Linked DNA regions of Homo sapiens: regions 2 and 3 are each linked to region 1. Evidence: fine-mapped expression QTL. A gene starts in region 1. Each other region holds a variant in brackets. All regions are shown on one strand. Distances are from middle to middle.

Region 1 (2,764 bases):
AAGCCACTAAAACCAGCGTACTGGACACCTAAAACGGTAGGCTGACAGCAGCTCCGGGCTAAGACCAAGAAGACGGAAAAGTGGCCTGCTTTGACCTCCGCTGAAAACTGAGGCTCCTCCAACTGTTGTTGTCCTGGAATCAAAGGGCAAAGCATTCACCTCTCAGGGGTTGGATTATCCGGATAAACTCCCCCCGGCTCCCTGCGGCATTCCCACACACCCGGTGGATGTCAACACCGAGAGCCAGCCGTATGAGGGGGGCCTCTCCGTGTGCGCCGTCCTTTTGGAGACGCGGCGAGACCGGGAAGAAAGACGGCCCTGCGCGCGCCCCGCCTCCCCAGCCCTTCCCCAGCGCCCGCGCTGGGGGGCTGCGGCCGGGAAGCGGGGTCCCGCGTGCTCCTCACCTTTTTCAGCGCAGGCACCAGTAGTCCCCGCCACTTGGGCGCGTTCTCTTCGCTGAAAAACTCGTAGGGCAGCTGCTGCGCCTGCATGGTGCCCCCGGGGCGCCTCTGGGCGGGGAGAGGGGCGGCGGCGGCCGGGCCAGGGAGCCGCGAGAGGGCGAGCTCGCAGCGCGGAACAGGGCCGCGGCCCCACCGGACGGCCCGGCCCCCTCCGGGCGCCGCGCAGCCGGGCTAGCCCTGGCGAGGGGGCTGGGGGGCGAGGCCCGCGCCTGGCCACCCACCCGACACAGGTACCAGCCGTGGAGAACGGACGCGGCCCGGAGGCGGCGGCATCCCGCACCACCGCCCCGGGGCCAGGCCCCCCGCCCCTCCCCGGCCCGCCGGCGCCGCCCCGGGCTGCCCTCTGCCGCGGCCGCCGCCCGCCCGCCGGGGCTGCACTCCCGGGCCCGGTCTGGCCCCGCGGCGGAGCTGGCGGCTGGGGGAGGACGTGTGGAGGGACGCTCCGGCCGCGGCGCCCGCTCCGCGTAGTTGGGACTCCGAAACGCAAGAGCCCCGGGCGGGGCGGAGCTGGGGCGGAGGTCTCGCGGGGAAGGGGAAGGACCGGAGGTCGTTGTTGGGGAATCTGGCTGCCCTGAGGTGCCGCCGCGGCCGCCGCCGCCACCGCCGCCGCCGGTGTAGCGCTGGAGCTTCCTACTAGCGAACTGAACCTGCTCGCTACTGAGCATGCGCTGCCGTGCTGGGCTGGTTCGCTCCGGGTTTTCCGGCTCCCGGTGAAGGAGGAGGAAAGCTCGAGAGAGAAAGAGAGAGAGAGACAGGGAGGGCGCCCGGCCGGGCTGTGGCTGCGCTCCTGGGGGCTGCAGGGGAGGGGCGAAGGGGCCCGAGAAGTCGCACCCTGGCAAAGTGGGGCCTGCAAGGGTGGGTGATGACTAGGGTAAAGAGGCTCCCCATTGTGTGGCCTGGCCGTGAGGGCTCCCACCCTTCTCGGAGTCCCTGGGCCCTTCGTTTCGGAAAGGGGTGTGTGTACTTTGTTCCTGAACACGAAGATAAGGACTGCCCAGAGCACGCAATGTATAGTAAACAGACTGGACAAAAGACAGGTGCTCTGTCACGAAACCTACTGCTCAGTATCTGCTGAGTAGTAGAAGTGATTGCGGTGTTTCTAAGTGGTCTTTCCACAAAATAATAAAATGTGTACGTGTAGTATTGATTTTGTGTGAATGTTTTAGATTCCCTCTGTTCATCTTTTAAACCCACTCCAGAAATGAACTCCAGTAAGCACTTTCCTCCAGTGGATATCGAGACCTCTTTTACAGCTCCTAGAGCACTGCACTTATGCCCCTCTCAGGGCGTTCAGTCTATTGTGTTTTGTTATCTTTTGCGGTTCTTTCGACTAGATAATAAACTGGAAGGCAGATCTTTTTCACCAGGGCCTCTACACAGTGTAGAACAGGCACTCAGTCAATGTTAGTGGAATGCTAAAGGAGCAGTATTTATAAACTGTCCCTCCAGGCCACTGTTTGTTTATAATAGGGGCACTTTGTGGCAGACACCTTATGATTTATCATTAATTATCATTTTTTTGAGTATCATCTCATTTAATCCCCATAGCAACCCTATTATTTTCATTTCACCGATAAGAAGGCAGTTTAGAGGAACTAGCCTGGGTTAAAGCTGACATTGTGTCCTGCTATTCCTGAGAACAGTAACCAGGATCACATAAACGAGAAAGGTTCAGTGGTTCTTAATCTTTACAGGACCTCTTTGAAAATCTGGAAAAACAACTCTTAGGTTATTTCCTTTAAAAATACACAGGCCGGCCAGGCGAGGTGGCTCATGCCTGTAATCCCAGCACTTTAGGAGGCCGAGGCGGATGGATCACCTGAGGTCAGGAGTTCCAGACTAGCCTGGCCAACACTGTGAAAACCTGTCTCCATAAGAAATACAAAAATTAGCCGAGCATGGTGGTGGGCGCCTGTAATCCCAGCTACTTGGGAGGCTGAGGCAGGAGAATCGCTTGAACCCAGGAGGCAGAGGTTGCAGTGAGCCGGGATCATGCCACTGCACTCCAGCCTGGGCAACAAAACCAAAACTCCGTTTCAATTCAAAAAAAAATATACACACACACACACACACACACACACATACACACAGACCGGCCGGGCGCAGTGGCTCACGCCTGTAATCCCAGCACTTTGGGAGGCCGAGGTGGGCGGACCATTTGAGTTCAGGAGTTTGAGACCAGGCTGGCGAGACCCATCTTTATTGTTTTATTGAAAAAATAAAAATATACATACTTGGTTTACATTTGAAAAACTCCCCACTTTCAAAGTGTGTGGAATGAAAGCTGGAATTATAGGCGCCTG
Region 2 (2,764 bases), 67 kb before region 1:
GCTATTACAAATAAAGCCGCTATGAACATTCATGAACCAGTTTTTGCATGGACATGTTTTCATTTCTTCTGGGTAAAAACCTAGGAGTAGAATTGCTGGGCAATATGGTTAGTTTATGTTTATTGTTATAAAGAACTGCCAAACTGGCCAGGCATGGTGGCTCACGCCTGTAATTCCAGCATTTTGGGAGGCCAAGGCTGGCAGATCACTTGAGGTCAGGAGTTCGAGACCAGCCTGGTCAACATGGTGAAACCCCGCCTCTACTAAAAATACAAAAATGAGCCAGGCGTGGTGGCACACACCTGTAATCCCAGCTACACGGGAGGCTGAGGCAGGAGAATCGCTTGAACCTGGGAGGCAGAGGTTACAGTGAGCCAAGATCACGGCCCTGCACTCCAGCCTGGGCAACAGGCCGAGACTACGTCTCAAGAAAAAAAAAAGAGAGAGAACCACCAAACTGTTTTCCAAAATATACTAGTTTACTTTCTCAGGTAATGTGGGAATTTTATATTCCCACAAGTAGTTGCTCCATACCCATTTCAACTTTTGGTATTATAAGTCATTTACATTTTAGCCTTTCAAATGAGTATGTAGTAGTATGTCATGGTTTTAATTTGCATTTCTCTAATGATTAGTGATGTTGAACACCTTTTGATGTGCTTTTTGGCCATTTTGGTTCTTGATTTTTGTGTCCTCAGAAACCTTTGCCTCTTCTTTACTTTTTTTAAAGCAACCTTATTGAAACATTATTTAGAAACCATGCAGTGTGTCCATTTAAAGTGAGTAATTTAATGGTCTTTAATATATTTACAGATTTGTACAACCATCACCATAATCTCCTTTATTTTTTAATTTTCACTCATCGCCATAGCTTGAGCCCAATCCCAGCCTCTGTAGTGAGCACTGTTTCTCTTATCAGTCATTTATGGCTGTGTGGCTACAGTTCCAGGAATTACCAGTGTGTAATTCCTGTGACCGTCTCACCTGTTCTCATTCAACATTTCTTCAGGACCCAATTAGGTTAGTTTGATCACTATCTTAAGATCAGTAATCCTTTGTCTAAGTTTCAATGTTACTGGCCCCTTCCTTTGTGCTCCCAATACTACTGCTGTCATACTTCTAATATGGTAATTACCATATTTTATTGCAATTTATAGTTTATATCTCTGTCTTGACTAGACTAAACTTAAGGAAAGGAACTCTTTTTTTTTTTTTCTTCTGAGACGGAGTCTCGCTCTGTCGCCCAGGCTGGAGTGCAGTGGCGCGATCTCGGCTCACTGCAAGCTCCGCCTCCCAGGTTCACGCCATTCTCCTGCCTCAGCCTCCCGAGTAGCTGGGATTACAGACGCTCGCCACCACGCCCGGCTAATTTTTTGTATTTTTAGTAGAGATGGGGTTTCACCGTGTTAGCCAGGATGGTCTCCATCTCCTGACCTCGTGATCTG[C/G]CCGCCTCGGCCTCCCAAAGTGCTGGGATTACAGGCGTGAGCCACCGTGCCCAGCAGAACTGTTTCTTATTCATCTTTGAATCCCTGCTGCCAAGCATGGTACCTGACAATACAGTTGGCATTGATGAAGTGTAGGTTGAATGATTCAAATGACTCAAACAAACATATCTTCCACCTAAACAAGAAGCTTTATCCTTTGGAGTACATGGAGAATTCTGTGAATTCATTTTCACTTACATAATCAGTCTACTTTGTATTTTGTCTCTTAATTTCTAATGTTAAATCTCTTGAAACTGTTGTAAAACTTTGTGATCATGAATTAAGTCCCACAACTTAAAAAAATTAACAAATTAGTAATGATGAACTGTACAACTTCAAATTTGAAGTGGTCATGCAAATTTCACAACACATTCAATGAGAGGCATATATACAATGATACTTACATTAGCTGAAAACAATTTTGAATTGGAGACAAAGGGCTCTCTAAAAACTTTTATAATTAGATTTAGTTCCCTTATATATTGTCGAATTTCTGCCATAAATGCTTTTACCAAATCATAGTAAGTTTGTTCTCCTGAGGTGGAAGGCTCTTCGTCAGTTAAAGATAATATATTAATATCTTCTACATCTTGATGAAACATATCCATCAATACCTATACAGTCAGAGATATAAAAAAGTATAATAAAATATGAAGCTTTCGTAGAATTTGATGTGAAATGCTCTAAGTTCTCTGAATAAAGTTCTTAAATGATAAAAAAGCAGACAAACAAATTTCTCTTCTTGGATATATTGCCAGCATCCCTCCACAGCTTCTCTAAAACAGAATTCAACATGTGATATAACTTACTACACTCCTCCAAGTTCTCTATCACTACTAGTATTTATCTGTCTGTCTCTCTTGTTAACCTATTACTTCCAATTTGTTTCCAGATCCTGTCTTTAATTTCCCTGACTTGGTTTTCTCTGTTTTATACCCTGCCATCATCACTTTATTCCATGGCCTCAGTATCTCATATTTAAATGTTTATAGCTGTCTATTCGGCCGATTTTCCTACATTTGTTGGGAATAGGTCAAAATAAGCTATTATTTTCTGCAAGAAGTCTACTGTTACTACTCTTGCTACAACACATCTTTCCCCTTCTTGAGAACTTCTACAGCATCATATCTCTATAACACAATAAAATATTATTTTATCTTGTGTGCTTTCTGATTGTTTCATGAATATAAGTATACCTTCATCAACTCTGGAGCCTTGTTTTATATATACTTATCTTGCATCTCCTCTCTGTGTAAACATGTAGTAGGTACTCAAAAATA
Region 3 (2,764 bases), 96 kb after region 1:
AAGAGTTTCTTTTACTAAATGTCAACTGTAAGGATTTTCTTAATTTAAAAAAATTATATTATGTAATACCCCAAACATATCCATCACTCAGATTTAATATTTTATCATATTTGGATATTTAAATCATATATTTAGATCACTTTTTAAAAATTGAACATGTGCAGATGTAGCTGACTTTACAGAACAGTGGGAAGGCCTAGGCATGACTCAGTTATGACACTAGCTACAAGAGTCTGAAGTATATGCAGAGAAACAGCAAGTGATGTACACGGTATTTTCCTCAGAGCAGTTTCCTGATCTTGTACCACAATTATGGTGGCATGTCCTTGACATCAGTGGCCCAGTGGCAACCCTTGACCCCAGTTCTCCTAATTATTAATATTGCAAATGTACCTAATTTTCATGATTAAATCCCTTTCGACTTGAAGTGTCTATTTCCAGCACTGAATACTGATATAACTGTATTCTTCTCCCCACTTCACCTAGAGCCAAACCTGAAACAACATTGCGTACACTTTCAAAATATGAGGCAGGAAGAATAGTATAGCCATGTTGAGCACTGTGAGACAGGTTGCTTGAGTTCAAATCCCAGATATGCTGCTTCCTACTTTATAATCTTGAACACGTTATTTAAGCTCTCTGCACCTTCAATTTTCCTCATGTGTAATACTAGAATAATATCTTATAAGTTATTTGAGTAATCTATCCCCTCAATGTCTGGTTTTAACACCCACATGAGTTCTGGAGATACAGGTCTGAGATTAGATAAGGCCAGTCGATGGGATTGAGACCCCTGTACAAAGAGGGAAGAGGTGCAGAATAGCAAGAGGCCCTGAGGAGAGAAAGAACTGGAGGTGTGGGGAAAGCAGTATGAGGCCAGGGTGGCTGAAACTTGAGTGAAGAAGCCAGGAAGGTTGGCAGAAATCAGTCCATGGAGGGCCTCGGAGATCTAGATCTCAATAAGAAATTTGGATTTTATGCTAAATTCAAAACCATTGAAAGAAATCAAGCAAGGAAGTGACATAATATGGAGAATGGATTTCTGGGAAGGCAACATACATACAGAGAGAGAAATTAGGAGGCTAATTCAATAACCCAAGTGAGATTTGGACACTTAGATTATGGTGGCAGCAGTGAGAGGAAGGGAAATGGATTTCAGTCCTTGAGAGGGACTAGCGAGGGTGGAGTACATGCTCCTGCTGACATGGGAACAGAACGCTAGTCTGGTTGGGATCTAAGAGCCTACAGGTGCAGGAGAGTAAGTACTGGAATTGGGAAACAAGGTAGGGGCTAGGATTGAGAAACTGCAAAACGCCAATTACTAGCCTTAATAACAGGGAATGGAGAATGAAGTAATTTCATAGGAAAGTAATTTCATAGGATGTTAAAGATGACTTTAACATGAAAGAGGATGTTTAAAGGCATCTCACAGGAAGTGTCATATTCAGTTCAGTTAGCTTCCAAGAAGGCAGATTCCGTCAGGGGCAAAACAACACCACTGATCGTGCAAAGAGAAGATAGCCATCAAAGAGAACCACAAACCAACACCACAGATCGTGCAAAGAGAAGATAACCATCAAAGAGAGTACACATCGACGCGGCGCCCAGT[C/G]CAGAAAGATAGAGCGCTGCAGCACCATTCAGCCACAGGCAGCATTTTTCAAAGCATCTTGGAGCAAAATGAACCTCTGGTGAAATCAAAAGATGCTCAGTGTTTAAATATTATATTTTGGGCCAGTGCAAAACCAAATATTCGGTTGGTACAAAAGTAACCGAGGTTCTTGCCACTGAAAGTAATACTAAAAGTCGTAATGAAGGCCTTAAAGCAAACATGAGACATCACAGTTCAAGTCTGAATGGGCTAACAAGATAGGGTAACATGATGGGGGAATTCAGACTGAACTGCTCAGAATATGCTCTTTGAACCACTCAGAGGAAGACCTGATGCTGAAATCAGAAGTCATTACCTGGAAGTTTGTTATAAAAACGTAATAGGGGAAGCTTGATTTCATTATTATTACCCAAGATGAATTCAGTCCTTCTCAGTAAATCTTTACTATCCTAGAATAAAATCCAGCCTTGTTACTATGGCCTACAAGGCTGTTAATAACATTTTACTTCCATTTCCCTTCCCAACTTTATCTCCTATCACATCCCTAAAGTCACTCCATCCCAGCCCATTATTTTCTGCTATTCTCTGAACATGCCAGGCTTATTTTATTATTTATTTATTTATTTATTTATTTATTTATTTATTTATTTATTTTTTGAGATAGAGTTTCGCTCTTGTTGCCCAGGCTGGAGTGCAATGGCATAATCTCCGCTCGCCGCAACCTCCGCCTCCTGGGTTCAAGCGATTCTCCTGCCTCAGCCTCCCAAGTAGCTGGGATTACAGGCATGTGCCATCACACTCAGCTAACTTTGTATTTTTAGTAAAGATGGGGTTTCTTCATGTTGGTCAGGCTGGTCTTGAACTCCTGACCTCAGGTGATCTGCCTGCCTCGGCCTCCCAAAGTGTTGGGATTACAGGCGTGAGCCACTGCGCCTGGCCCCCAAGGCTTATTTATACTTTCAATCAGGCTGTTAATAACATTTTACTTCTATTTCTATGTTTACTTCTATTTCTACTTCTATTAACAGTTTATTGTTCCTTCTACTTCCTTTTAGTTATGAGTAATTTTCTGTGTTAACTTGACTAGGTTAAGGGATGACCAGATAGCTGCTAAAACATTATTTCTGCCAGGTGCAGTGGCTCATGCCTGTAATC

Direction of the effects. Alleles are on the strand shown, and positions count from the first base shown. SD is a standard deviation of normalised expression in the study named. Not every link is listed here.
For the expression in monocytes after interferon gamma of the gene that starts at base 1,120 in region 1, C is the high allele of the variant in region 2 and G is the other (large effect, 1.3 SD a copy in Fairfax 2014).

What was found.
Region 2: its variant is fine-mapped to the expression of SOS1 in monocytes after interferon gamma (Fairfax 2014, PIP 0.95).
Region 3: its variant is fine-mapped to the expression of SOS1 in whole blood (TOPMed, PIP above 0.99).

What each region holds. Positions count from the first base shown.
Region 1 is chr2:39,119,932-39,122,695 of GRCh38, forward strand. It overlaps SOS1 (SOS Ras/Rac guanine nucleotide exchange factor 1), which reads right to left and starts at 1,120. Exons shown (of 23, transcript NM_005633.4): 1 at 405-1,120. The coding sequence starts at 491. RefSeq lists an enhancer at 1-69 and a silencer at 270-989.
Region 2 is chr2:39,052,726-39,055,489 of GRCh38, forward strand. SOS1 (SOS Ras/Rac guanine nucleotide exchange factor 1) reads right to left here. Exons shown (of 23, transcript NM_005633.4): 5 at 1,889-2,098. Among named protein-coding and RNA genes, the nearest start is that of SOS1, 67 kb to the right of the region's middle. The variant C/G (reference allele first, on the strand shown) is at 1,446.
Region 3 is chr2:39,215,485-39,218,248 of GRCh38, forward strand. All of the region lies in intron 3 of CDKL4 (cyclin dependent kinase like 4), which reads right to left. Among named protein-coding and RNA genes, the nearest start is that of CDKL4, 27 kb to the right of the region's middle. The variant C/G (reference allele first, on the strand shown) is at 1,610.